Homo sapiens: one gene and its partners. Each later gene encodes a partner of the first gene's protein in a complex. Each region holds a gene or a part of one and is shown in the gene's direction. Other genes may lie near its edges. The genes, in order: RPTOR, EIF4EBP1, ZFYVE28 and MTOR.

The links.
Region 2: the proteins of RPTOR (region 1) and EIF4EBP1 are in contact, whole or in part, in a cryo-EM structure (PDB 6BCX), measured with the Homo sapiens proteins. Residues at the interface, in NP_065812.1 of Homo sapiens: Arg54 (codon at 4,902), Arg305, Thr317, Asp321, Phe337, Arg338, Leu341, Ala344, Arg348, Leu437, Gln438, Leu440, Leu441, Ser442, Gln443, Arg446, Tyr475, Lys478, Leu479, Gln481; in NP_004086.1 of Homo sapiens: Glu111, Ser112, Gln113, Phe114, Glu115, Met116, Asp117, Ile118.
Region 3: the proteins of RPTOR (region 1) and ZFYVE28 are in contact, whole or in part, in a cryo-EM structure (PDB 9F43), measured with the Homo sapiens proteins. Residues at the interface, in NP_065812.1 of Homo sapiens: Arg54 (codon at 4,902), Arg305, Arg306, Thr317, Asp321, Phe337, Arg338, Leu341, Ala344, Arg348, Leu437, Gln438, Leu440, Leu441, Ser442, Gln443, Arg446, Pro474, Tyr475, Lys478, Leu479, Gln481, Ser482, Ser483, Ala484; in NP_066023.2 of Homo sapiens: Arg399, Val400, Phe401, Phe402, Met403, Asp404, Asp405, Val406, Glu407.
Region 4: the proteins of RPTOR (region 1) and MTOR are in contact, whole or in part, in a cryo-EM structure (PDB 6BCU), measured with the Homo sapiens proteins. Residues at the interface, in NP_065812.1 of Homo sapiens: Phe278, Lys282, Cys283, Ser285, Leu286, Pro288, Gln380, Ala381, Asp383, Leu384, Asp387, Glu411, Gln412, Thr414, Ala415, Val418, Trp419, Thr421, Met422, Arg427, Asn428, Glu431, Gln432, Lys973, Ile974, Asp979, Leu980, Glu981, Ser982, Lys986; in NP_001373429.1 of Homo sapiens: His597, Thr600, Pro632, Val644, Ser645, Gln646, Thr647, Ala648, Val649, Ala653, His686, Ala688, Gln689, Glu691, Met721, Asn722, Pro723, Ala724, Phe725, Met727, Pro728, Phe729, Arg731, Lys732, Leu734, Ile735, Leu738, Thr739, His743, Tyr771.

The regions. Positions count from the first base shown.
Region 1 is NC_000017.11:80,540,888-80,547,946, forward strand, and holds the start of RPTOR (regulatory-associated protein of mTOR), read left to right. Parts: upstream 1-3,950; 5' UTR 3,951-4,742; coding exon 4,743-4,904; intron 4,905-7,059. UniProt on the Homo sapiens protein: Component of the mechanistic target of rapamycin complex 1 (mTORC1), an evolutionarily conserved central nutrient sensor that stimulates anabolic reactions and macromolecule biosynthesis to promote cellular biomass generation and growth.
Region 2 is NC_000008.11:38,033,507-38,040,681, forward strand, and holds part of EIF4EBP1 (eukaryotic translation initiation factor 4E-binding protein 1), read left to right. Parts: intron 1-7,175. UniProt on the Homo sapiens protein: Repressor of translation initiation that regulates EIF4E activity by preventing its assembly into the eIF4F complex: hypophosphorylated form competes with EIF4G1/EIF4G3 and strongly binds to EIF4E, leading to repress translation.
Region 3 is NC_000004.12:2,338,557-2,345,731, reverse strand, and holds part of ZFYVE28 (lateral signaling target protein 2 homolog), read left to right. Parts: exon of another isoform or gene 1-4,116; coding exon 4,117-4,254; exon of another isoform or gene 4,255-5,692; intron 5,693-5,817; exon of another isoform or gene 5,818-5,964; intron 5,965-6,076; coding exon 6,077-6,279; intron 6,280-7,175. UniProt on the Homo sapiens protein: Negative regulator of epidermal growth factor receptor (EGFR) signaling. Acts by promoting EGFR degradation in endosomes when not monoubiquitinated.
Region 4 is NC_000001.11:11,252,491-11,259,665, reverse strand, and holds part of MTOR (serine/threonine-protein kinase mTOR), read left to right. Parts: intron 1-215; exon of another isoform or gene 216-242; 5' UTR 243-256; coding exon 257-418; intron 419-1,072; coding exon 1,073-1,181; intron 1,182-2,500; coding exon 2,501-2,733; intron 2,734-3,473; coding exon 3,474-3,674; intron 3,675-5,692; coding exon 5,693-5,827; intron 5,828-7,175. UniProt on the Homo sapiens protein: Serine/threonine protein kinase which is a central regulator of cellular metabolism, growth and survival in response to hormones, growth factors, nutrients, energy and stress signals.

The DNA.
Region 1 (7,059 bases):
ATTTTTTTTTTTGGTAGAGACAGGGTCTCACTATTTTGCCCAGGCTGGTCATGACCGTTTTCATAGCTTGAATCAAACCAGGTTTGTGTGTTTTCTGAGATTCCTAACATTTTGTTTTTAAGATTAAAGTATTTTAGCTGGACACGGTGGCTCATGCCTGTAATCCCAGCACTTTGGGAGGCCAAGGCGGGTGGATCGCCTGAGGTCAGGAGTTCAAGACCAGCCTGGCCAACATGGTGAAACCCCGTCTATACTAAAATTACAAAAATTAGCCAGGCGTGGTGGCGGGCACCTGTAATCCCAGCTACTCGGGAGGCTGAGGCAGGAAAATCGCCTGAACCCGGGAGGCGGAGGTTGCAGCGAGCCAAGATTGCGCCACTGCACTCCAGCCTGGGCGACAAGAGCAAGACTCTGTCTCAAAAAAAAAAAAAAAAAAAAAGGATCTTATTTAAAGTCTCTGTGGACAATAGATGTCCTTGCTTGTGAAGAACTGGAGACATTGGAAATTGGAACTGCAGCCCCGAGTGGCCAGCCCACCACATGCCACAGTCATGGAATCACCCAGGTGAGACAAGTCAGCCCTTGAATTTCCAGGCTGCCATTACTCACAGATGCTCACTGCCTTTCAAAAACCTAGAGCCACTTCCAAATGCTTGGCTGGGACTTGAAGAGAATCATCCGTGACATACTAGAACGAGGTTTCTTTTAAATGTCAAGATGCCATAAAATGATTCAGGCCCATCCTTGAACCTTCAGGGTGAGAGCTGAGCAGTCACAAGCCCCTTTCTGGTCTTTACATGAATCACAGAATTTCAAACTGGAAGGATCCTTAGAAATTCGCCTTCTCCAAGTTCCTGATGTCACAGACGTGGAGACCAAGGGTGGAGGAGGGCAGAGGCTTTGCTGAAATCTGCAGGAATTGGTGGCAGGTTGGGGACCATAGAATGTGTGTGTGTCTTCATCCTCAGTCCAGGACCCGAGTGGACCCCTGGCTCGGGGTCACATGTGTTAAACAGTAGAGGGTGTGTTTTGTTCTGCTGTTTTGAGGAGAAGGTGAGTCTCTTTCTGCTTTGTCAGATGGAAGTCTGGACAATTACTTCATAGCATTCATTCATTTGCCACACATATTGATTAAGGGCCCAATATGGGACCCGAACTGAATCACTGCAGGAGACTTTAGAGCGAATATTGTCTAAGACCTCCAAGTCTGCCTGGCTGTGAACTATCCTCAGAGCGACCTGATTTAAGAATTCAGATTCTGGCTCTCTTCCTTGGCGCTGCCTATGGAGGGGGCAGCCATCTCCTCCTTGGCATCATGGCCGCCCTCAGACCCCCTGTGAAGCCCAAGATCATCAAAAAGAGAACCAAGAAGTTCATCCGGCACCAGTCAGACCGATGTGTCACGATTAAGCGTAACTGGCAGAAACCCAGAGGTATTGACAACAGGGTTGGTAGAAGGTTCAAGGGCCAGATCTTGATGCCCAACATTGGTTATGGGAGCAACAAAAAAACAAAGCACACGCTGCCCACTGGCTTCTGGAAGTTCAGTCTACAACGTCAAGGAGCTGGAAGTGCTGCTGATGTACAACACTTCTTACTGCGCTGAGATCGCTCACAGTGTTTCCTCCAGGAACCGCGAAGCCACCACAGAAAGAGCCGCCCAGCTGGCCATCAGAGTCACTGACCCCCATGCCAGTCTGCGCAGTGAAGAAAACGAGCAGACAGCTCATGTGCATGTTTTGTGTTTAAATAAAACTGTAAAAACTGCAAAAAAAAAAAAATGCAGATTCTGAATCCCGGTCTCCCTGCTCCCCGATCTGGGGCTCTGGGTTGGAAGCTGGGCATCCTGAATTTTAGTTTCCTGGGCGATTCTGACCACCTGGTGGGTTTGGACTTCAACGTGCTCACTGACACCTTCGTTTAGAATTTCAGATACGAAAAATGGATTTCCCAAGGTCACACACGTTATAGGTGAGGAAACTGAGTCTCACACAGATTCAGTGGGCTTTCCCAGGTCACAGAGCTAGTTAGGGATGAATGGGTTTAGCGTTGCTGCTTTTCTGTAACTGTGACTTCCTGCAAGAGCTGCTGGAATGCAGCTGTCTACAGCCACCGGAGGTGGGGAGCAAGGTGACAAGGCAGAGGACAGGAGTGATTTTGTTGCCTTCAGATGAGAACGGGGTCTTCCTAAGACCCTGCATCCCTGAAGCCTCTGCTGGTAACTGTGAGGATAGTCTCTGCCAACAGAGAGGGTGCCCTGAGTTTCAATAGGAGAATTGGCTCCATGGGGTGTAATAACCAAACGAATGTGCGGAATGACAATGATTTAATCCTGTAGCCTTTATTAAAGGCTTGCTTTGTGCTGGGTGAGAAAGGTCTGGGATTGTATTCTTCATTCTCATTTTGAAAGGAACACAAATGCCATCAAGATTTTGATATGGATGGCCACATGTGTCTAAGCCCCGGAAAACCATCCTGAGAGATCAAGACCATCTTGGCCAGGATGGTCTTGAACTCCTGACCTCATGATCCACCCACCTCAGCCTCCCAAAGTGCTGGGATTACAGGCGTGCACCACCACGCCTGGCCTCGTTTTATTCTTATTTATTTATTTATTTATTTATTTATTTTTGAGATGGAATCTCACTCTGTCACCCAGGCTGGAATGCAGTGGTGTAATCTCGGCTCACTGCAACCTCTGCCTCCCAGGTTCCAGCTCTTCTCCTGCCTCAGCCTCCCGAGCAGCTGAGACTACAGACGCACGCCACCACGCCCAGCTAATTTTTGTATTTTTATTAGAGACGGCGTTTCACCATGTTGGCCAGGCTGGTCTCGAACTCCTGAACTCGTGATCCACCCTCCTCGGCTTCCCAAAGGGCTAGGATTATAGGCGTGAGCCACGGTGCCCTGCCTACATTTGGTTTTATAGTCCACCTTACACAGTTCTCTATACATTGTAAATGAGCCAAATTTCCTGAATTGAAAAAGAGAGTCACACAAGAGGCTTGCCTCCACGCACAGACATGTAGTTTTAGATGTCTGCACGTGAAGCTATATCAAAATAAGAATAAACTACTGCTACCAAGAAGTGGGAAAAAAATTTAAAAAGGATAAACTGCTCAGAAAACGAAACAGATTAAACAAAAAATTGTATTAGATGAAATTTTTTTTCATCGAATCTTGCTCCAGACTCTTCTTCTGTTGCTTCAGACCCTTCTTCATCTGAAGAGTCTTGCTCTGTCTCCCAGGCTGGAGTGCAGTGGCACGATCTTGGCCCACTGCAACCTCCGCCTCCCGGGTTCAAGCAATTCTCCTGCCTCAGCCTCCTGAGTAGCTGGGATTACAGGCGCGCACCACCACGCCCAGCTAATTTGTGTATTTTTAGTAGGGACGGGGTTTCACCATGTTGGCCAGGCTGGTCTCGATCTCTTGACCTCGTGATCTGCCCGCTTCGGCCTCCCAAAGTGCTGGGATTACAGGCGTGAGCCACGGCGCCCGGCCTTTCACTTGGTTCTCTATGAAAAAATTAAAGAGAAAATCTGATTGACACTGTGGAGGACACTACACTCCAAAAAAAAAAGTACTATATTTTCTAATATTATCAGTGCTTTTTAATATTTTCTAATATTATCAGTGAAGCTTTTGCCGCTTTTTCAAAATCTGGAAGAAACAAGGCGGTTGATTCCTTTAATTTCAGGAGCATGTAACTTCATTTATAATGACAATGTTTTTGAAAAAATAAATTAAACCGACAGTTTCATTTGTAGGATTGACTTTAATAACACGCCTCTACTGAACAAATGGCGATTAACTGGGGAAAACGGAATTATGGTAACCGAGGTAACGGGGTCGGGGACTCTTTCTCCTTCGCTGCATGCTGGGTGGCGGGGAGAGACCGCTCTGAGGAGGTTTGGTCTGTCGGCCACGCCGTAGGCCGCGGTGCATTCTGGGTCCTGGCAATATGGCGTCCTCCTTGATGGGCTGATGAGATGAGTTTCACTGTAGCTCCAAACCAGAGGGCAAAGCTCCCATGACCCAATAAGCCCACATTGTCCCTTTCCTCCGTGGTTCCGTGTCGCCCGTTTCTCAGGACTCGTTCTCAGGCAGGAGAGAGCCTCGGGGCTGAAGGCCAGGACCAGCCAGGCCGCGCGGACCTGAGGTTGAGGAACCGGGTGCAGGCGAGCACGATGGGCCGGTCGTGGCTCTGGTTGCAGCAGCTCAGACGAGTGCGGGACCCGCAGGGCTGAGAGTGGCTGGAGGAGACCCAGGGCCCTTTGAACCCGATCCCTTGGCCGGAGACCTCAGCCCAGTCGGCCCAGTGGGCGAACCGGCACCAAGAGCGGCCTGCCTGTCTTCGGAACTGCTGAGGCGGTGGAGGCCGAGAGCAGGGTCATCGTGAGGCCTGAAGTCTCTTACGCTTTTGGCAGCTCCCCTCGCAGCCCCTCTGGAAACGTACAGCCTCAGGAGCAGCCAGTGGCTTGGGACCTGGGGTGGTGTGTGTCTGCGGAGCTTCTTGGGCTGCCCCATTTCCTAGCGGCCCCCACCTCCCCACTTCCCGCTCAGAGTTAGAGATAAGGATCTCAGACTTTTGCCTGAGTAAGGGTCTCCGCACTCTTTATCCATTTGGTTTTCGATTTCCCGTTTTTGTTTCTTATTTCACCAATTCTGGTACACGCTAGTTTTTAAGGCTGGAGGTTCTCGAGCGCTTGCTGCCAAGGACTCCCCCACCCCCTCCCCCACTGATGGAGTCCGAAATGCTGCAATCGCCTCTTCTGGGCCTGGGGGAGGAAGATGAGGCTGATCTTACAGACTGGAACCTACCTTTGGCTTTTATGAAAAAGAGGCACTGTGAGAAAATTGAAGGCTCCAAATCCTTAGCTCAGAGCTGGAGGATGAAGGATCGGGTAAGTGGATTCTGAAGGCACCCCTTGAACTTGGTAGTTTCCCCAACAAAGAAAGTTTACAGCCCGAAAAGTGTCCTTGGGAAAGCGCCGACATTTCCCCCTAGCCACACGTTGTAAGTCAACTAGAAAGCAAAAGCCATTTCAGACTGCAGTTTTTGGTTGAAAATGGAAAATGCTGTTTTGGTTAGTCATTATTCACTGGGTAGTGTTAATTCAATTCCAACTAAGTTCTAATTCAGATAATAAAAGTTAAGCAAATTTGAAAATAGAGCATTGCGAGTATTTACATGCTCTTTGGCATACTACTTAGTTCTGTAAACACTTAGAGGAAGGACAACGTGCGATATAATCTTTATACCCACATGATTAGTCTACTTTTTAAAATATCCAAGCTGGGTGAAGTGCAGAAGTCTGATATACTATGCTAGGAAATGAGATTACTGGAAAATGTTCAACTAGTAACAAATTAGTGCAAAGTTATTATAAAGTTACACTGAACTTCATTCTAGTCTTCTAAACAATTTCTCTTGAAGCTAGATTTTCCTCCTTTTATGTAGTGTCCTGTTGCTGTAACTTGGAAACAGGATTTCTTTAATCGTGAGTTAGGGTATGAGGCGTCGAGACTTGGGTGCAGGTTTTAGGGTGTCCGCATGGTGTTTGGAGTGTGGAGAGTGACTCACAAGCAGCTGGTAGGAAAGAAAACAGCCGAATTTTGTTGGATTTGTCCTTCATAAAACACCCATCTATTTCCTGGCCTCAAAAGCAAAAGGGTAGTACTGCTTCTCCTCTATGCACACTTATAATTTGTCTTTTTGTAAGTTATTTTCTCCCTCCAGGCTGCTTTTATTTGCACATTTCAGTGGTATAAAAGAGGAAGTTGGTGTTACAATGTTTGATTTTCTCTAGGCTTATGTATATGTTTATGGAATATTATTGTTTTTTAGTATATGATGTTGAACATATATAAGATTACACTTCTGGGCTGGGCGCGGTGGCTCACGCCTGTAATCTCAGCACTTTGGGAGGCCAAGGCAGGCCTCCCAAAGGCAGGCGGATCACCTGAGGTCAGGAGTTTGAGACCAGCCCGGCCAACATGGTGAAACCCTGTCTGTACTAAAAATACAAAAATTAGCTGGGCTTGGTGGCAGGTGCCCGTAATCCCAGCTACTCGAGAAGCTGAGGCTGGAGAATCGCTTGAACCTGGGAGGCAGAGGTTGCAGTGAGCCGAAATCGCACCATTGCACTCCAGCCTAGGGGACAGAGTGAGACTGTGTCTCAAAAATAAATAAATAAATAAAACTTCTGGTAACTCTAGTCAGTCAGTCAGTAGTAACCAGTTAGCTACTGACTTGGCTTACTTCTAAAAGGTTAGGAAAATTTGTTTCATCCAAAAGCATTTTAAGGAGTTAAATAAGTTAGTCATTGGGGGAGGTTGTATAAATTCTATCTTATGGACATCTTTAGTAGTAACTATATAGTTAAAAGCTTTTGTGGTTGCTATACATATATGAAAAGACTTTTTAAAAAATTCTTTGTGGAGGGCAGTTTTTTTGTTGTTGTTATTTTGAAATGTGGTTCTCTCTGCTGTCCTAAACCTATGTTCCAACAGTTTGAAACTGATTAATGGGTATACGTTTGACCTTTTAATTAAAACATTAATTTGTGAATGATCAACATTCCCTAATAAGCTTTTCACAGGTTGTTAAGAGAAACAAAAGTTCTGTGACTCTTAGTGACTACTGAGATTGCTGCTTAGAAAGGAGCTGGGGAGAAAGTTTGCTGTATCTGTTTTTCGGTGGAGAAAATCAGCAGCTAACATCTTCAGTTGAGTGTGTGGGAGTTTGGAATCTTGTCATCTCTTCCCTCTTCCAAAGGTCAGGTCCTTTGGAATCTTGTCATCTCTTCCCTCAAGGACCGTATCACACATGCTATAGGACAGAAGTTGCAAACTCAAATGATATTGAGTGGGGATGGTAGCATAAGAGAATGAAACAGGCCACATTTAAGAAGAATAATGGCATAGGTTCAAAGATAAAGACAAATGGCAGCTGACATTTGGCACAGTGTGTGTGACAGTTTCTGGAGGGTGGGAACAGGGGCTCCCTGATGCCATAACTGAAGGGGCAACTGGGCTATGGCCAGGCCTCTCTCTTTG
Region 2 (7,175 bases), on another chromosome or scaffold:
CAGGTAAACTTTGATCTCTAAATCGTGGTGTGGAGAGCCAGGCTTTTGATAGAGTGTCTGCATGGCTGTCTGCACCTGCTTACTTATAGGGACTGTCAGCTTCTCAGGAAAAACCATTGGAGTAAGTACCCCCCAGTCACTCCTGCTGGGAATGGCCCTCAAGTGATTGTCCCTGGAGGGAAAGAAGCAGCAGTTGGGTTGCACTATCTCCATTCCTATGACTCCAGTTTGCTTTCCTTTTTTTTTTTTTTTTTTTTTGAGATGGAGTTTCGCTTTGTCGCCCAAGCTGGAGTGCAATGGTGAGATCTTGGCTCACTGCAAGCTCCGCCTCCCGGGTTCACGCCATTCTCTTGCCTCAGCCTCCCAAGTAGCTGGGACTACAGGCGCCCGCGATCAAGCCCGGCTGATTTTTTGTGTTTTTAGTAGAGACAGGGTTTCACCGTGTTAGCCAGGATGGTCTCGATCTCCTGACCTCGTGATCCGCCTGCATTGGCCTCCCAAAGTACTGGGATTACAGGCGTGAGCCACTGCACCCGGCCCTTTTTTTGTTTTTTTCCTGAGACAGGGTCTCATGGTGTCACCCAGGCTGGAGTACAGTGGCACAAACATAGCTCACTGCAGTCTCAAACTCCTGGGCTCAAGTGATCCTCCTGCCTCAGCCTTGCAAGTAGCTGGGACTATAGGCACGTGCCACCATGCCCTGCTAATTTTTTTATTTTTTTGTAGAGGCAGGGTCTCTATGTATTACCCAGGCTGGCCTCAAACTCCTGGGCTCAAGCAGTCCTCCCACCTCAGCCTCCCAAACTGCTGGGATTGTAGGCATGAGTCACCTCACCTGGCCTCCAGTTTGCTTTCCATGGTCATTAACCATTTGCACACTGAGGCTCTGCTCTGAGGTTAGCTGTCCAGAGTACTTAAGATAATTTAATTGCCGAAGGGAGTGTCATGTATGAATATTTGAGTCTGTGGAGTCTTAAAAATATCCAGCGACACCATAAACAGCTCATTAGCCAGCAGAACCTTTGAGTGGGTCAGAAAGAAACTTTCCCTCATCAATCTCCACATTCCCAGCTCCGTGTTGCATGTTTGACTCTGAAGCCTATATACAGGCTTGGATGGCAGTTGTGCCAAAGACCCGTACCTGGATAAGGTGAATCCGAGGTGAGCAGGTAGGGCTGCAGGTGTTAATGGCACCCTGTTTGGTTAAGCAAACAAGGTCTGTGCCCAGGAAGCTTACCTTGGAGCAGCTCCCAAGTCTTTGGACATGAAACAGGCAGTGCTGGGAAGAAGGGGATGTAGGCTGGGCACCAAAGCCAGAGCACAGCCCATGTCCTGAGGCCTTAGTCACATGGAGGGAAGAAATTATTAAGGATGGGTTAAAAGAGCTTGGACATTAATGCAGTGAGGGAGAAACGATGGACCCTCTTCTCACATTTACCTGAGCTTCCTTTTAAAGTGTTTGAAGGAGCTGGGTGCGGTGGCTCACTCCTGTAATCCCAGCTATTAGGAAGGCTGAGACAGGAAAATTACTTGAGGCCAGGAGTTCAAGACCAGCCTGAGCAACATAGTGAGACTCTGTCGGTATAAATTAAATAAATAAAATTTTTTAAAGTGTTGGAAGCATTCCACACTGTGTCCCTTATTAAAGATTTGGTGGGGGGTTCCTGGTGTAGAGCACTCCAAAATCCCTCCAATCCCCAGACTCCTTTTTATTATTATTATTATTTTGAGACAGAGTTTCGCTCTTGTTGCCCAGGCTGGAGTGCAGTGGTGCAATCTTGGCACACTGCAACCTACGCCTCCTGGGTTCAAGTGATTCTCCTGCCTCAGCCTCCCAAGTAGCTGGGATTACAGGCATGTGCCACCACACCCGGCTAATTTTTGTATTTTTATTAGAGACAGGGTTTCACCATGTTAGTCAGGCTGGTCTCAAACTCCTGACCTCAGGTGATCCACCCGCCTCAGCTTCCCAAAGTGCTGGGATTACAGGCATGAGCCACCACACCCGGCCTTATTATTTTATTTTATTTTATTTTATTTTTGAGGCAGTCTAACTCTGTCGCCCAGGCTAGAGTGCAGTGGCATGATTTCAGCTCACTGCAGCCTCCACCTGCCAGGTTCAGGCTGAGACAGGAGAATCCCGGGTAGCTGGGATGACAGGCACGCACCACCATGCCCAGCTAATTATTTATTTATTTATTTATTTATTATTATTTTCCTCAAGATGGAGCCTTGCTCTGTCGCCCAGGCTGGAGTGCAATGGTGCGATCTCGGCTCACTGCAACCTCCACCTCCTGGGTTCAAGCAATTCTCCTGCCTCAGCCTCCCGAATAGCTGGGTTTACAGGCGCGCTACCACGCCTGGCTAATTTTTTGTATTTTTAGTAGAGATGGGGTTTCACCACGTTGGCCAGGCTGGTCTCGAACTCCTGACCTCGTGATCCGCCCGCCTCAGCCTCCCAAAGTGCTGACATTACAGCCATGAGTCACCGCGCCCGGCCTATTTTATTTTATTTTTGAGGCAGAGTCTCATTCTGTCACCCAGGCTGGAGTGCAGTGGCACCGTCTCAGCTCACTGCAGCATCCGCCTCCTGAGTTCAAGCAATTCTCCTGCCTCGGCCTCCCGAGTAGCTGGGACCACAAACCCGGCTATTTATTTTTGTAGAGACAGGGTCATGCTTTGCTTCTGAGTCTGACCCTCTAGTTTTTTATTATTTGAAAGGAGAGGCCAGGTGCGATGGCTCACACCTGTAATCCCAGCACTTTGGGAGGCTAAGCAGATCACCTGAGGTCAGGAGTTCAAGACCAGCTTGGCCAACATGGTGAAACCCCATCTCTAATAAAAATACAAAAAAAAATTAGCCGGGCCTGGTGGCAGGCGCCTGTAATCCCAGCTACACAGGAGGCTGAGGCACGAGACTCACTCGAACGATTCTGGGTGACAAGAGTGAAACTCCGTCTCAAAGAAAAAAGAGAGAGAGTTTGATTTTTTTGCTTCCTAAAAGACCAAAAAAGTCCTTCATTGCCAAATCTGAGGAAAAAGGGTCAGCAGAGCAATACCATATTTATCCATTGACATAAAGTAGCGAGGCATTTTCTCATATAGACCTTTATTTTCATGTTCTGGAAGATGAGTTAGGAAGGCACAGCAATATTGTTTCTTCTTTTTTTTTTAATTTGAAACAGGGTCTCACTTTGTCACCCAGGCTGGAGTGCAGTTGCAGCCTCAACCTCCTGGGCTCAAGCAATCCTCCCATCTCAGCCTCCCAAGTAGCTGGGACTACAGGCATGCACCACCACAACCGGCTAATTTTTGTATTTTTTGGTAGAGATGAGGTTTCGCCATGTTGCCCAGGCTGGCCTCAAACTCCTGAGCTCAAGTAATCCACCCGCCTTGACCTCCCAAAGTTCTGGGATTAGAGGCATGCTCCACTGTGCTTGGCCTGGGAAGGCACAGCAATATTGAAAAAAAGGAACATTGCTTTCTAAGGTGAGTTTTAAAAAAAAAAAATGTTCAGTTGTGCACATAGATTCTTGCCTGTGCCAACAAACCCATGAAAAACCTGTTTCTTTCTGGTCTGACTTAGACCCATGCCTGGGGTCTCTCTCCATTATGATTCATAGCGAATGAATCACACGTTTTTGTTTACGTGTTTGTTCCCTAGGTTAGCCAGGAAATTTTTTCTGAGCAGTCTTACTCATCTTTGTATCCACATGACCTAATGCCAGGTCTAGTGTCTGGAAGGTGAAGAGTTGAAAAGAATGCTGGAATGAAAGCGTTCCCCTCAGGATAACCTAGTTTTCTTATTTTATTTATTTATTTATTTTTGAGACTGAGTCTTGCTCTGTCGCCCAGGCTGGAGTGCAGTGGCATGATCTCAGCTCACTGCAACCTCCACCTCCCTGGTTCAAGTGACTCTCCTGCCTCGCCTCCTGAGTAGCTGGGATTACAGGCACGCACCACCACACCCAGCTAATTTTTGTATTTTTAGTAGAGACGGGGTTTACCATGTTGGCCAGGATGGTCTCAATCTCCTGACCTTGTGATCCACCCGCCTCGACCTCCCAAAATGCTGGGATTACAGGCGTGAGCTACCATGCCTGGTCAGGATAACCTAGTTTTCTTACTGTCAGGCCTGAGTCTCCGCTGGCTTAATGATGACGTTTAAATTTCCTTTTCTGTCCTTTCAGTTGCAGGGTATAAGTGTTTATCTCAGAATGTCCCAGGGGCAGAAACTAACTTTCTCTGTTTTGATGATGTTGTCTGTTTTTTGTTTGTTTGTTTTTTGAGACAAAGTCTTACTCTGTTGCAGGTTGGAGTACAGTGGCACGATCATGCCTCACTGCAGTCTCAACCCCCTGAGCTCAGGTGATCCTTTTGCCTCAGCCTCTCCAGTAGCTGGGACTACAGGCACACACCACCACGCCTGGCTAATCTTTAAATTTTTAGTAGTGACAGAGTTTTGTCATGTTGCCCAGGCTGGTCTGGAACTCCTGGGCTCAAGAGATCCACCACCTCAGCCTCCCAAAACACTGGGATTACAGGCGTGAGCCACTGGACCAGCCAGAGAATAACCTTCTCTGAACCCTCCTACTTATCCTCATACAGATAGTCCCCGATTATGATGGTGTGACTACAATTTTTGACTTTACGATGGTATGAAAGTGATATGTGTTCAGTAGGAATTGTACTTTTAAAAATTGTTTTAAGACAGATTCTTGGCCGGACACGGTGGCTCATGCCTGTAATCCCAGCACTTTGGGAGGCTGAGGTGGGTGGATCACGAGGTCAAGAGATAGAGACCATCCTGGCTAACATGGTGAAACCCCGTCTCTACTAAAAGTACAAAAAATTAGCCAGGTGTGGTGGCACACACCTGTACTCCCAGCTACTCAGGAGGCTGAGGCAGAAGAATCGCTTGAACCCGGGAGACAGAGGTTGCAGTGAGCCGAGATCACGCCACTGCACTCCAGCCTGGGAGACAGAGCAAGACTCCATCTCAAAAAAAAAAAAAAAGGCAGAGTCTTGTTCTATTACCTACATTAGAGTGCATTGGCATGATATCGGCTCACTGCAACCTCCGCCTCTCAGGCTCAAGCAATCCTCCCACCTCAGTCTCTCAAGTAGCTGGGATTACAGGTGTGCGCCACCACGCCCAGCCTAGAAATTGTACATTGAATTGTGAATTTTGATCTGTTTCTGGGCCAGCGATACGAGGTACATGCTCTCGAGATGCTCAGCAGGGACAGTGAGCTGCAGCTCCCATTTAGCCCCACAAACATGAGGACAAATGGCCAGTCACAAGCTTGTCCAACCCGAGACCCTCAGGCCACATGCACTCTGGACAGCTTTGAATGAGGCCCAATACAAGTCCGTAAACTTCCTTAAAACATTATGAAATTTCTTTCTTTTTTTTTTTTTTTTAAGCTCAGCTGGAGTGCAATGGCACAATCTCGGCTCACTGCAACCTCTGCCTCCCAGGTTCAAGTGATTCTCCTGCCTCAGCCTCCTGAGTAGCTGGGATTACAGGCACGCGCAACCACACCCAGCTAATTTTGTATTTTTAGTAGAAATGGTGTTTCTCTATATTGGTCAGGCTGGTCTCGAACTCCCAAGCTCAGGTGATCCGCCCACCTCGTCCTCCCAAAGTGTTGGGATTACAGGCGTGAGCCACCACACCCAGCCAGTGTTAGTGTATTTTATGTGTAGTCCAAGACAATTCTTCTTCCAGTGTGGCCCAGGGAAGCCAGAAGATTGGACAGCCCACTATAGAGTCTATAGTGTGCTGTGTTGCCAGGTGGTTTTGTCCAACTGTAGGCTAATGTAAGTGTTCTGAGCACATTTAAGGTAGGGAAGGCTAAGCTATAATGTTCAGTAGGTTAGGTGTACTAAATACTTTTTTTTTTTTTTTTTTTTTGAGTTGGAGTGTTGCTCTATCGCCCAGGCTGGAGTGCAGTGGTGCAATCTCTGCTCACTACAGCCTCTGCCTCCCAGGTTCAAGCCATTCTCCTGCCTCAGCCTCTTGAGTAGCTGGGATTATAGGCGTGTGCCACCACACCCAGCTAATTTGTATTTTTAGTAGAGATGGGGTTTCACCATGTTGGCCAGGCTGGTCTCAAACTCCTGACCTCAAGTGATCTGCCCGCCTCAGCCTCCCAAAGTGCTGGAATTACAGGCGTGAGCCACTGCACCTGGCCCTAAATGCATTTTTGACTTAAGATATTTTCTATGTATGGTGGATTTATTGGGACATACTTCATTTTAAGTCAAGGAACATTTGTATTAAACAGTATTGCTGGTATTTCTTGTCCCAATATTACCGAACAGGGAGTGGATGTGACTTTTTTTCTTTTTTTTAAAAAGCAAAAACAAAAAACTTTTAACAGATAGGGCCTCACCTCTGTGGCCCAGGCTGGAGTGTCTATGGGCTGAAGTACAGTGGCGCGATCACCACTCACTGTAACTTTGAGCTCCTGGGCTCAAGCAATCTTCCTGCCTCAGCTTCCCGAGTAGCTGGGACCACAGGCACATGCTACCACACCTGGCTAATTTTTATTTTTTGTAGAGATGAGGTCTATGTTGCCCAGGCTGGTCTTGAACTCCTGGCCTCAGGCAATCCTCCTGCCTCAACCTCCCAAAGCATTGGGATTACAGATGTGAGCCACTGCATCTGGCAACTTTTTCTTACACTGAACAAGCCAGTATTGGGGCCGGGGTCTCAGACACTGTGACTGATGCTGTTTATTTACCTGTTTGCATCCAGCATTGCTGACAAGGCAAGAGTAAGTAACTGCTGCTCACTGACATTTGGGTATGCACAGCAAAGGGCTCCATGTAATCTGATGGTTATGCCCATGAAAGCTCATTAAGAGAGCTCAGATACTAGGCCCAGAGGATCAGGGCTTCTTAGGTGTGCAGGGACACTTGGTGAAAATGGTTGTATCAGTTAGCTATTGCTATATAACAAGCCATCCCCAAACAGTAACTAAACAGCAGCGATTTGTTATTGTTCTCCATCTTTTGGGTTCGTTGGGTTCTTTGTAGATCTTGCTGAGCTTACTCATATGGCTGCATACAGTGTACAGCTGGACTGTCCTGGGGTGGAAGCTCCAAGATGGTCTTACCCATACATCTGGGGCATTGCTGGGGACAGCTGGAAGCCTGGGAGTTCCCTC
Region 3 (7,175 bases), on another chromosome or scaffold:
GGTATAGTTTTTAAAAACGTGTCTTCTGCTTGGGGTTCATTTACTTGGTTCTATGAGTTTATATTTATTAAATTTGGAAAAATTTTGGCCATTATTCCTCCAAATATTTTTTTCTATCTCATTCCTCCTCGTTTTGGGACTTGAATTACATCCATATTTGATCTTTGAAGTTGTCCAGCAGTTCATTGATGATCTATTATTATTTCTGAATTGTTGGGATAGTTTCAGTTGCTGTCTTCAAGTTTACTCTTCTTTTTTTCTGAAATATTGAATCTGAGGTTAATCTCATGCAGTATATTTTTTCATCTCAGACACTGTAATTTTCATCTCTAAATCAGTTAGGGACTTTTAGTTTCTTCGTTGTCTCTAGTTAACTTTTTGAACACATGGGAATCAGTTATAACAACCGTCTTAATGTCCCTGATCATCTTTGTCAAGTCTGGCTTGATTTTGATTGATTGCTTTTCCTTTTAGTCATGGGTCATATTTTCTTCATTCTTTGCAAGCTTGGTAATTTTTTTTTCTTTTTTTTGAGATGGAGTCTCACTCTGTTGCCCAGTCTGGAGTGCAGTGGTGTGATCTCAGCTCACTGCAAGCTCTGTCTCCTGGGTTCATGCCATTCTCCTGCCTCAGCCTCCCAAGTAGCTGGGACTACAGGTGCCCGGCTATTTTTTTTGTATTTTTAGTAGAGACGGGGTTTCACTGTGTTAGCCAGGATGGTCTCAATCTCCTGACCTCGTGATCTACCCACCTCGGCTTCCCCAAGTGCTGGGATTACAGGCGTGAGCCACCGCGCCTGGCCGTTTTGTTTTGTTTTTGTTTTTTGTTTTTGAGACAGAGTTTTTTTTGCTCATATTGCCCAGGCTGGAGTGCAATGGCATGATCTCAGCTCACCGCAATCTCCACCTCCCAGGTTCAAGCGATTCTCCTGCCTCAGCCTCCTGAGTAGTTGGGATTATAGGCATTCGCCACCACACCCGGCTAATTGTGTATTTTTAGTAGAGACGGGGTTTCTCCATGTTGGCCTGGCTGGTCTCGAACTCCCGACCTCAGGTGATCCACCCACCTTGGCCTCACAAAGTGCTGGGATTACAGGCGTGAGCCACTGCACCCAGCCAAACTTGGTAATTTTTTAATTGGGTACCTGACATAGTGAATTTCACCCTGCTGGGGGCTATTTTTGTATTACTGTAAATATTTTTGGTTGTTCCGTGATGTAGTTTAGTTACTTAGAAACAGTTTATTCCTTTGGGTCTTATTTTTAAGGTGTTAGGCAGGACCAGAGCTGTGTTTAGTCTAGAGTTAACTGCTGTTCACATGGAGGCAGAACACTTTTGGGTACTCTACTCAATACTTTGTGAATTGTGAGTGCTCCTGCTACTCTAGCCTCCTGGAGAGCTCCTGTCACTGCTCCCTCAAATCATTCAGGTGCGTCTTTCCTGAACTTAGGTCATCTCCCCACAGGCATGTGTTGATCAGTTCTCGGCTGAACCCTTGAAACCTTCCCCAGATCTCCAGAGTTCTCTCTGTCCAGCTCTCTCTTCTCTGCCTCCTGCTCTCTGAATCCTAACTGCCTTGGTTCCATCCGAGTTCCCTCTCCTGTTCCATGACTTGAAACTTTCCTCAAGGCAGTGAGCTGGGGTAGTCATGGGGCTCACCTTGTTTGTTTCCTGTCTCTTGGGGATCACTGTCCTTTGTGGCCTGATGTCCAGTGTCATGGAAATCACTGTTGTTCTTGGGAGTGGGGTAAACTGGGTTCCTATTACTCCATCTTGGCTGGCGTTAGAAGTCCTAGCAAGTGTTTCTTGCAGCATACTGTGTGTGAGGCACTGTTCTAGGCACTGGAGACTCATCGTGAATAACAGAAGACCCTTCCCTCAGGCAGCTATGTTCTAGCAGACCAGGAAGGCTGGGCAATGAATCCAAGCACGGCCATGAAAGGCTCCTCAGCCTTGGGCAAGCTGTGCCACCTGGGCTGAGCACTAAAAGCTCCTCAGCCTTGGGCAAGCTGTGCCACCTGGGCTGAGCACTACAGCCTTAGACAAGCTGTGCCACCTGGCTGAGCCTCAGATCCTGGACTCTTCTTCATCACAGCTGGGGCTTACTGTGCACCGCCTGTTGCTGTGATTGCCATTGTTTGCTCATTTGTTTGTTGAATCATGAGCAAGGGACCTTCCTACCCAGAAAACCTTTTAAAAAGAAGTGACAGTAGTCCCACTTATTGGTTGAATTTTATTTTTATTTTTTGTATTATAAAGGCTTAACATTTTTCTTACAGTGCAGAATTTCCTTCAGAGTTTAGTGCATGATTTCTTGCCTGAGAAGGGTCATGCTTCCCCACTCATAGTGAGTTTTCGTATCTCTTCCTAAGAAAAATGAAAGTCAAGCCTCAGGAGGGATGGTCGAGATTAAAAATTGCCAAGGTGAGAGTGTCAATTAGTGTGCTCTTTCTGGAAAGCCATTTGGCAGTATCTCATTAGAGCCTGGAAACGCAGTTTGCACTTTTGACATTGTAATTCCATTTCTAGCAATCAGTGGGTCCTAAGGAAGTAATCCACACTCGGAGCATCGTGCACCACAGTAGTGAGGGCAGCATTGCGTGGAGGTGGAGGATTAGGCACATCGTCAGTGTCCAGCAGAAGACAAAGGAGTGAGTTAACAGGACGGTCCATATGCTGGAATTGCATGTCACTATCCATCAAAAATTGTATATGTGACAGATGTAATAACATGTTGCAGCAGCTACAACAGCAGAAGGCAGTATTACGTACATGGATCGTCTCAACGTTGGCTGAAAACAGGCCCTCGGAAGATGAGAATTAGAAGGAACTGTGTCCCACCTGCGGTCATATTTCCCCAAGGACATTTTCCCCACTTCTCTCCTTTCCCATTGGTTCCAGTTTTCCTAGGATGAACGTGTATTGATTTCATATTTAACAAATTAAAGCAAAAGTTAAACTTCCAGTGTTTTTGTAACCTACAGAATGAATAGTCAATGTTTAAAGAATAGGACAAATTTACAGAAAAGGATGGAATGCAATTTAAGATGTAAAAAAATGGGCTTCTTCTCCCTCATATACACAAAGTGTTCAAAACACTCTGTTATACTTTATATTTTGAACATAAGGAAATAAAGTAAAATAATTTTAAAGAGTCTTTAAAGTAGAAGCTGCTTCCAGGGATGCTGGCTCACTCTGGTAATCCCAGCCGCTCGGGAGGCTGAGGCTGGAGGATGGCTGGAGCCCTGGAGTTTGAGGCTGTCGTAAGCTATGATTGCGCCACTTCACTCCAGCCTGAGTGACAAAGCCAGACCCTGCCTCTAAAAATAAACAAAAAGCCAGAAGTTGCTGTGTATTGAGGCTTACAGAAGGGGACCTGGCTGATCAGAGAGGCGAAGTGACCTGTCCCTCGTTGAACAGCCATGAGGGATGGAGTCAGGGTCTCCATGTTGTGAAAGCAGCACCCCCTTCCAGTGCAGACTGACTTATGCGTTGCTGTAATTGATCTGCTGGTTCCAGAGGAGGTGGGAGGGGACGCCACCCTGGATGGAGGAGCAGGCCCCAGCTGTGCCTGGCCTTGACGTAACTGCACTCTTCTGACCCTAAGACGTGGTCTGTGTCCCTGACTCTACAGAGGAATGCACTGAGCTTCAGGGAAGACGAGGGCTTTGCAGGTCCCCAGCCGACTGAGAGTCCGTCTGAGCCCATGGCTCCTGCGGTTGCTGCTCTTTATTGCCCTGGCTGGAGTGCGATGGCACCATCTCGGCTCACTGCAACCTCTGCCTCCCTGGTTCAAGTGATTCTCCTGCCTCAGCCTCCCTAATAGCTGGGATTACAGGTGTGCGCTACCACGCCCGGCTAATTTTTGTATTTTTAGTAGAGATGGGGTTTCGCCATGTTGGCCAGGCTGGTCTCAAACTCCTAACCTCAGGTAAACCACCCGCCTCGGCCTCCCAAAGTGCTGGCATTATAGGCATGAGCCACCGTGCCTAGCCTCCTCTATCACTTTAATAATCCTAAAAAACAGTCACATGCACCGTGCGTGTTTTCCAGCAGTACATGGCGGCCGCCAGCTGGACACAGCGATTGGCGCACTTTCTCCTGTCTTCTGTTTCAGGACAATGTGTTGAACATCATTAACCAGATCATGGATGAGTGCATCCCCCAGGACCGCGCCCCCAGAGATTTCTGCGTCAAGTTCCCTGAGGAGATCCGGCACGACAACCTGGCCGGCCAGCTGTGGTTCGGTGCCGAGGTAGCGGGTGGCCACCCGGGTTCGGAGGTCCTGATGTGGGGTGGCGTCTAGCCAAGTCCCTGCGAACCTTGTGCATGGGCGCCTGCAGGTGCCGGGACCTGGTGTCTCCTCCAAGAGCTCCGTCCACTCTGGGTTACGTGGTGTGGTCTGAGCCTGGTAGGCCGTGCACCCCTGGAGGATCTGGGAAAGCCATGAACTGGTGCCCCCAAAACTATACATACAAATGAAATTTCCCATGTGGTTTTTATGAGGTTCACAGGCCCCCAGACAGCCAGGACCTAAAAGTGGTTTTTAATGGCAGTAATGCCCACATCAGGAACAAGTGTTCCCCTCCGGCCCTGCAGCATGGGCAGCAGCAGGGGCTGGGGAGCCGTGCTGCAGCCCCACGCAGGCCACATGTGGCAATAGCCTGTCATCTTCATCTTCATCTCCCAATCAGGAAACTGAGGCACCGAGAGGAAGGTGCCCTTCAAGGTGGCGGGAACAGTCTCCCCCAGGCCCCCACCATGCGGACTCCCCAGCCTCCTCCCCTTGCCGTGCTCCCGAGCCTGACCTCAGCCCCGACACCGCCACCCTCTCTATTGTGCCGTCCCCATCCTGCCCGCCTCCCCTTTCTAGGAATCCCTGGGGTGCGGAGTCTTCATCCCACGCTGCCCCGTCCCTGTGTCCACCCTGCCCACCCCACCTTCTGAGCCACCTGGTTGGGGTGTCCTCTGCCGAGGCTTGGGTTAGTTACAGGGGCCCGCGGGCAGGTTCTCCCTCCTCCCCAGCCTCAGTTTCCACCTCCGTGGAGTGGGTCCTGGGGCAGTCATGAGATGGAGCGTGTTCTGTGCCCGGCTGGCCTGGCAGGGGCATGCATGCACAGGGGTGGGCACAGCTCCTTGTGTGGTCCTGGTGCCCCAAGCTCTGTGCCCACCTGCAGCTTGGGCCTGGGCGATCAGCGCCGTCTCATTCTGTCACCTGGGAAATGGCTTCTTGTCCTGCATCACTTGATCATCCCTGAGGGGACAGCAGGTGGATTGGTTCTATCCTAAACCTGGCGAGGCCCCGGCCTCTAGACAAGCCTCCCTGTGACAACAGGTCTACCAGGGCCTGGACTCAGCCCCTGTGCCAGAGGGCAGCTTGGTGAAATTCCCAGTTGCTGAGCGCACGCTGGGGAGCTGCCTCGCAGCACCCAGGGCAGACATGGGTGGATTTGTGGGTGCGGAGGAGCCCTCCTTACCTGCCCAGGAGCCCAGGGACTCTCACACTGATGAGTCTGCGTTCCGGGGAAGGTTGCGTTTCTCTGGCAGTGAGCAACTTGACAGGTGGTGTCTGTGGCTCCCTAGATAGGCTGGGGACCTCGGGCCCGGATCAGCCCGGCTGCTTCATCCCTGGGAGCACAGACCTGATTGTGGAGCCTGGAAGCTCCAAGCTCCTTGAACTTCATCCCTGTGGCCTGGACGGGGAGCGGAAAAGAGTCACATGACCAGGGTTCCTCCTGCAGGGAGCCCCCAGACCCAAGGGCCTCAGTCCACCTTCCCCTCCCCTCCCCTCCCCTGCCCTCCCCTCCCCTGCCCTTACCTGCCCTGCCATGCCCTGCCCTCCCTGCTCCTGGGGCCCTGTGAGGACCCCGTGGGTCACATTGGGGGACATCGGTTATCGCCCTCACGATTGCTCTGAATGTAAGAAAAACCTCCTGCGGGGACCGGGAACACGAGCTGGCCTGTGCTGTGGGGTGAGAAGAGGGGCCCCGAGGTGCGCAGTCAGGTTCCCCGGGTCGGCGACCCCTGAGAGCCTGGCCCTCACCCGGGCCCCTCCCTGAGTGTGTCCCCTCCCGCAGTGCCTGGCCGCCGGCTCCATCATCATGAACCGGGAGCTGGAGAGCATGGCCATGCGCCCGCTGGCCAAGGAGCTGACGCGCAGCCTGGAGGACGTGCGGGGCGCCCTCCGTGACCAGGCGCTGCGGGACCTGAACACCTACACAGAGAAGATGAGGGAAGCGCTGAGGCACTTCGACGTCCTGTTCGCAGAGTTTGAGCTCAGGTACTGCAGCTGTGGGTCCACAGCCCTGGCTGTATGAGCTGGGGGACGGTTGTGCCAGCTTCCGGGGCTCACCCTGATACTTCAAGCTGGAAAATTCCACAGAGGGAGGAGCCAGGCAGGTTCAGGGCCGCCTGTGGGTGGGGTTAAGCCCTGGAGAGCATAGCGTGGAGGTGAGGTGGGGCATCTTTCCAGGGAGTGGGGTGAGCACAGAGGACACAGGTGTGGATCTGGCCGCCGTGGGCCTCCAGGGGAAGGGCTTTGGAGAGGCCCGAGGGGCCAGACATGCATGATGCCTCGGAAGATGAAGAGACGTCACAGGTGAGAAGAAAACAGAGGCAGCCAGGCGGGTGCGGTGGCTCACGCCTGTAATCCCAGCACGTTGAGAGGCCGAGGCAGGCGGATCATGAGGTCAGAAGATCGAGACCATCCTGGCTAACACGGTGACACCCCATCTCTACTAAAAAAAATACAAAAAATTAGCCGGGCCTGGTGGCGCGCCACTCAGGAAGCTGAGGCAAGAGAACCGCTTGAACCCGGGAGGCAGAGGCTACAGTGAGCTGCGATCCAGCCACTGCATTCCAGCCTGGGCGAGAGAGCGAGACTGCATCTCAAAACAACAACAACCACAACAAACAAAACACGGAGGCAGATGGTGTCCGCAGAGGTTCAGTTAATAAGTTTTTCATCTTGTAATCTACTGGCCCCTAGGAGATCAACCAATGCATTAAGGGCAGTCCTCTGCAGGAAGCAAGAGCACGGACAGTCGAGTTTTATTTTCTTGTCTTCCCCAAATTTTCTAAATCAGCTTCCATAAGAAAAAATTAGAGTTAGTGATTTATTTATTTATTTATTTATTTTCTGAGACGGAGTCTCACTCTGTTGCCCAGGCTGGAGTG
Region 4 (7,175 bases), on another chromosome or scaffold:
CCAAGTAGGCTAGGCCGATAGCCCACAATTTAACCTCCCTACTACACTGCCTCTTTTAAACATCAGTCATTGTTTAATGAATCTAGGCTTTCTAAATGTTCCTCAATCAGATCTCTCAACCTTTTTAGAATCCCCTGCCTGACAAGGGCTAGGGGGAGATCTGTGTTGGGTGACCAGGGCCATAAGTAAATTTATCATCATACTTTCTTATCCAGAATATTAAAGGAAACTTCTCTCTAAAGAACCTCAGGGCAAGATGCTTGGAACCGGACCTGCCGCCGCCACCACCGCTGCCACCACATCTAGCAATGTGAGCGTCCTGCAGCAGTTTGCCAGTGGCCTAAAGAGCCGGAATGAGGAAACCAGGGCCAAAGCCGCCAAGGAGCTCCAGCACTATGTCACCATGGAACTCCGAGAGGTGCTTCTGGGATCTGGGGCCAGTCATTGTGGGATGTGTGGGCTAAATGTACCATCACTGGTTTACATTTTTTTTTGTACAGCTAAGTGAGGATTTGGAAAACAGAGATTATTTTATAAAGGCACCCAACCTGTCACATCCATAAAACATGCAGGTTCTTTTGCAGCAGTTGCACATTTTTGTAGCATTTTTCTTGTTTGTGGTCACATTTTAGGGGCCAGAATAGACTTAGCTGTTTCTTTTAACTTTTTATTTTTTCCTTACCACATACCACACCCTCAAATGCTTTCTGTCTGATAACAGTGATTGGGATGGGTTTGGAGAGTTGAGAGCTAGGGGCTTTCTAAATAGAGACCAGACTTGAGGTCAGAGACAGTATCTTGTTTCTCCTTTTATCCCTGGTACTAGAAAGAACCTAGGACAGGACATTTTCTGCCACAGAGTAGATACCTAATAAATATTTGTTAAATAATCAGATGATTGCAAGTTCAGGTACTCTACAGTGTAATCCTATAGAAATGGGCAGTAACTTGTCTTCTTTGGTTTGAACTATACCTCCTGCCTCTCAGGATCTAATCTTTAGATGCCAGCCCACTCCCACCACCACAGTTAGAGAATTATTAGAAATTGTTCTGATTATATCTTCTTTTGCAGATGAGTCAAGAGGAGTCTACTCGCTTCTATGACCAACTGAACCATCACATTTTTGAATTGGTTTCCAGCTCAGATGCCAATGAGAGGAAAGGTGGCATCTTGGCCATAGGTAAGGACAGAGTCTCTGGTCACAAAAACAACACACTCACCTTTGTGCCCACTGCACCCTGTGTCTGCCACTTACTGGATACTAGTTCATATTTGCTTAATGAAATTTAAGAAGCCCGTGGCTTTTAATTCTAGCAGCAGCCCTGGGCCACAGGAAAAACGTATTTTTAGATGTGGAAGTGGAGTCTCGGAACCATCGAGTGACTTTTCAGACAGTTTACCAGAGCTGAGACTAGAAGCCAGCTTTCTTTCCACTCCTTCATATTGCCTTTTGTGGGCTCTGCTTCCTCAGTAGAGCAGGGTTTCGCATAGTGGGGCTCACGAATGGAAAAGTGGAATCGGTATAGTTAATAAAAGGCAGGTCTTTTTTTTTTTTTTGAGATGGAGTCTCACTCTTGCCGGGGCTGGAGTTCAGTGGTGCAATCTTGGCTTGCTGCAACCTCCGCCTCCTGGGTTCAAGCGATTCTCGTGCCTCAGCCTCCCGAGTAGCTGGGATTACAGGCACCTGCCACCATGCCCAGCTAATGTTTGTATTTTCAGTAGAGACAGGGTTTCACCATGTTGGCCAGGCTGGTCTCGAACTCCTGACCTCAAGTGATCTGCCCACCTCAGCCTCCCAGAGTGCTGGGATTACAGGTGTGAGCCACCACAACTGGCCAGGCAGGTCATTTTTAACTTCTAAGGACTGGTCATCAGTCCTGTGAATTATTATCCAGTCCCAGTTGTTTTCCCTTTTTGGGGGGTAGGGGAGAAAATTATACTAGCATGAGATTATTTTGCTTTATGTAAATATTTCTGGCACAAGTATTAAATATCTGGGTTAAAATGAAAATTGTATCTGTCCTTGCCATCTAGAAATGTACTCAAAGTAGAATGGAGGGTTCACTCGCCAGATTTTTTTTTTTTTTTTTTTTTTTTTCTCTGAGACAGAGTCTCACTCTGTCGCCCAGGCTGGAGTGCAATGGTGCAGTCTCGGCTTACTGCAACCTCTGCCTCCCAGGTCCAAGCAATTCTCCTGCCTCAGCCTCCCAAGTAGCTGGGATTACAGGCGTGTGCCACCACGCCTGGCTAATTTTTTTGTTTTCTTTTTTTTTTTTTTTTTTTTGTATCTTAGTAGAGACGGGGTTTCACCATGTTGCCCAGGCTGGTCTCAAACTCCTGAGCTCAGGCAATCCGCCCGCCTCAGCCTCCCAAAGTGCTAGGATTACAGACTTGAGCCACCGTGCCTGGCCGGCACTCACCAGCTTTTAGTTGAAGTCTGCGTACTTTCCTGGCCAGCATACGCCCCATCATCACCTTTTGCCTTCCTCTCTTTTGCAGCTAGCCTCATAGGAGTGGAAGGTGGGAATGCCACCCGAATTGGCAGATTTGCCAACTATCTTCGGAACCTCCTCCCCTCCAATGACCCAGTTGTCATGGAAATGGCATCCAAGGCCATTGGCCGTCTTGCCATGGCAGGGGACACTTTTACCGCTGAGTACGTGGAATTTGAGGTGAAGCGAGCCCTGGAATGGCTGGGTGCTGACCGCAATGAGGGCCGGAGACATGCAGCTGTGAGTGTCTACAGGGAGGAGCACAGCCAGGCTTGGGGAACGATGGTGTCATGGGGGGGTCTTTTGCTTCCTTCTGAGGCTCATTCCTTAAAAAAGCTGGTTAGAAGAGCTAGGATTCCAGGCTGTGAGATGGGGTAGAGTCCGTCCTTAAGAGGGAATCTAGCATGGTGTGGTGGGGATCAGAAGCATCAGCTGCGTGCTTTCCAGTCTGCTGCCCTTCGGAGGAGGCAGTACTGTGAGGAGGGGGCACGGTACCAGGAAAAGGACACACACTTGGACCCTGGCTCAAGTCTTGGCTTTGCAACTTCCTACCTAACTCTGTAACCTGGGGCAGCTTCTGACCTTCAGTTTCTTCCTCTGTCAAATAAAAATAACAACAGGATTAAACATTAAACAGGATTATCCATTCAGTAAATATTTACTACATACCTACTGTATTCCAGGTAGAGTTCTAGGCTGTTAGTATAGTGGTAAAGAAAACATAAAACACATCTGCACTTCCAGAACTTATGTTCAAACATTACAAGCATTCTGTGTTTGTAAACAACCTAGGATAATGAGCACTGAGATGTTTAATCAATTTTGCTTTCCTTCCTCTGTCCTCAGAATTTCCTAGCTAGAAGAGTGAGCAAGCCTTCTCTGTTCCTGGTGTGTATGGCTCTAAGATGACAAGAGACTGTACTCCTGAGAGAACAAAACTCTGGTACCAATGAGAGTTCTCGGTTTGCTTTTTTCTCCAGGTCCTGGTTCTCCGTGAGCTGGCCATCAGCGTCCCTACCTTCTTCTTCCAGCAAGTGCAACCCTTCTTTGACAACATTTTTGTGGCCGTGTGGGACCCCAAACAGGCCATCCGTGAGGGAGCTGTAGCCGCCCTTCGTGCCTGTCTGATTCTCACAACCCAGCGTGAGCCGAAGGAGATGCAGAAGCCTCAGTGGTACAGGGTAAGGAGATGGCTCCATTCCCACCACTAGCAAAGCACATCTGCGTAGAGAATCACCTGGCCTAAAGGGCAGCCACAAGCCCTTGCCATGGAGCAAGAATCACGTTTTGGTTTGCTCTCAAATGAATTTTTTTTTTTTTTTTTTTGTGATGGAGTCTTGCTTTGTCGCCCAGGCTGGAGTGCAGTGGCGCAATCTCGGCTCACTGCAACCTCCGCCTCTTGGGTTCAAGCGATTTTCTCCCACCTTAGCCTCCCGAATAGCTAGGACTACAGGCGTGTGCCACCACGCCCAGCTAATTTTTGTAATAGAGACAGGGTTTTGCCATGTTGGCCAGGCTGGTCTCGAATTCCTGACCTCAGGTGATCCACCTGCCTTGGCCTCTCAAAGTGCTGGGATTACAGACATGAGCTACCGCGCCTGGCCTCCAATGAATTTTTTATGCTCAGTATGAATCAATAGTTACTTTATTGCATTTTATTAAAGCAAACATCTATTGATAGCCATACCATTATTCTATACATTATTTTATGTATGACTAAGAATGCAAATATGCCAATTAAACTGTGACTTGGTACCTCTTTCTTTTTTTTTTTTTTTTTTTTTTTTTTTGGAGATGGAGTCTTGTTCTGTCACCAAGCTGGAGTTTAGTGGTGTGATTTTGTCTCACTGTAGCCTCTGCCTCCTGGGTTCAAGTGATTCTCCTGCCTCAGCCTCCCGAGTAGCTGGGACTACAGGCATGTGCCATCACGCCCAGCCAATTTTTGTGTTTTTAGTAGAGACAGGGTTTCACCATATTGGCCAGGATGGTCTTGATCTCTTGACCTCATGATCCACCTGCCTTGACCTCCCAAAGTGCTGGGATTACAGGCATGAGCCACTGTGCCCGGCCAACTTTGTACCTTCTTCTTATTAATAATTAATTATAAGACATCTCAGCTGGATGCTCACGCCTGTAATCCCAACATTTTGGGAGGCCAAGGCAGGAGGATTGCTTGAGCTCAGGAGTTTGAGACCAGCCTGGGCAGCATGTGGGATCCCGTCTCTACAAAAAATAAAAAAATTAGCTGGGCCTGGTGTTACACGCCTGTGGTCCCAGCTATTTGGGAGGCTGAGGCGGGAGAATTGCTTGAGCCCAAGAGATCAAGGCTGCAGTGAGTCATGATCATGCCACTGCACTCCAGACTTGACAACAGAGTGAGACTCTGTCTCAAAAAAAAAAAAAAGACATCTCTTTTCAGAGATGTTAAAATACGGAAAAATAGGTGTCTCAAAATCAGTGAGATACAAATGATACTAATTTAGAAAGTGCCATTTCTCTCTGCTCTAGTATAATGAGGCCTGTGCTGATTACTGCTGCAGAGGGAACTTATCAGTGAGTCTTATATTAGAAAAAGAGCTCTGAACATGGGATTGGGAGATGCGGGTTCCAGTCTTGCCTTTGCTGTGTGATCTTGGACAAGTCACTTAAATTCTTTGAGCCTGTGTTTTTAGCTGTTAAATAGGGATGATGATGGTATCTTCCTCAAAGGCTTATTATGAGAATTGAAGCTGGGGCTGGGCGTGGTGGCTTACACCTGTAATCACAGCACTTTGGGAGGCTGAGATGGGTGGATCACTTGAGGTCAGGAGTTTGAGACCAGCCTGGTTAACATGGTGAAGCCCTGTCTCTACTAAAAATACAAAAATTAGCCAGGCGTGGTAGTGTGTGCCTGTAATCTCAGCTACTCAGGGGGCTGAGGCAGGAGAATCACTTGAACCCAGGAGGTGGAGGTTGTGGAGAGCCGAGATTGCGCCACTGCACTCCAGCCTGGGCAATAGAGCAAGACTCCATCTCAAAAAAAAAAAATTGAAGCTGAATTAAATAAAAGAGATTGATCAGTTAGTTTTGTTGATGACTGGCACTAGGCACTGAGCAGGCGTGGTAGCACCTCAGAACCCCCAGTGTAGATGGGATGGGCCTGTATTCTTTCTGGGTTTGTACTCTGTCTCTAATGAAGGCACCCTGTCTCTCTACATAGCACACATTTGAAGAAGCAGAGAAGGGATTTGATGAGACCTTGGCCAAAGAGAAGGGCATGAATCGGGATGATCGGATCCATGGAGCCTTGTTGATCCTTAACGAGCTGGTCCGAATCAGCAGCATGGAGGGAGAGGTGAGAAGCCACGGCAGAGGGGAGTCCAGGCTCCCCGTGTACCATTCTGTGAGCGAGGCAAGGCGAGATCCATGTCCTCATGGAGCTGACATTTTGTGGCAGGAAACATAATAAATAAGTAAATAAGATAATTTCAGATAGCAGCAAGTTCTATGAAGAAAGTCAAACCAGAATAGAATAGAGAGTGATGGGGAGGGGGTGAGTGGAGGGTCAAGGAAGGCCCTCCCTGAGGTGGTGTTATTTGACGGGGGTCCACATGACACGAAGGAGCTACCTTGCAGCAGGCCGGGGGACTGTGTTCCAGGCTGAGGCTTTGAGGTGGAAGAGTGTGAGACATTGATGAAACAGAAGAAAGGGAAGTATGGCTGGTGTACCGGGAGCAAGGGAGAGGGAAGGAGGGGCCAAATTAATAGGCCCACGGTTCACAGTAAACACGAGCTTTCACAGGGGTAAACATTGGAAGTATGCACACAGGCGAATAATGTGATGTCATGCGTTTCTAACAATCACTGACTGCTTATAGGAAAAAATGTGGGGAAAGGCAGGAATGAAAGCAGGGAGACCAATTAGGAGATGTGTTGGCTTGAGAAGGTGGATTTAAAAGTGCATGGATTTTATTAGGGAAACAGCCTTCAAGAGAATATGGGGAGGAAGCTGGGAGAAGCATCGGACCACAATGCACATCTGACCCTGAGTAAGCAAGAGGGTAAAATTCGGATAGAAGTGTTCTAGCCTACTCTGCAGGGCCACCGCGGGGTCCTCAAGCCAAAGTTGGCTGTCAGAGAGGTCTGTGTCTCCCAAGAGCAGGATAGCCTTAGCATCCCTACTGTGTTCTGTCATTGGCTGGGAGCAATGGGTGACGTTGGCACAAACTTAGTGATGGGTTTCAGAGCAGCAGCTGGGGCCCTTGGTTATGCGCCTTGTAGTTGGAGGTTGCATTCTCACGGCTGCCAGACGAAGCTATTACGGTAGTCTGGGTGAGTGACAGTGGTGGCTTTGACTAGGAGTGGTGGCACAGATACTGAGAAGTAGTTGATTCAGGATATATTTGGGAGGTAAAGCTCCATCTGTGAGACTGGCTGTAGAAAATGAGCTGTGAAATTTTACCCCGGGGATTCCTGCTTATAATAGACACAGTGCTTGTTAGATAATAGCCATGCCCAGATGTGGGAGCAGCGCATGCAGCAGTGTGCAGAAGCAGGAGGAGTCTGGCTTCAGATCCCCACCGCTCTGATGACTGTGCGACTCAGGCAAGTTACCTGTTTAGCCTCATTTTTCTCCCTTTGGACAGGGGCTCTTACCTACCTCATTGGGCTCTTGTGCGGTTTCTATATGATGTTGGCTCTCT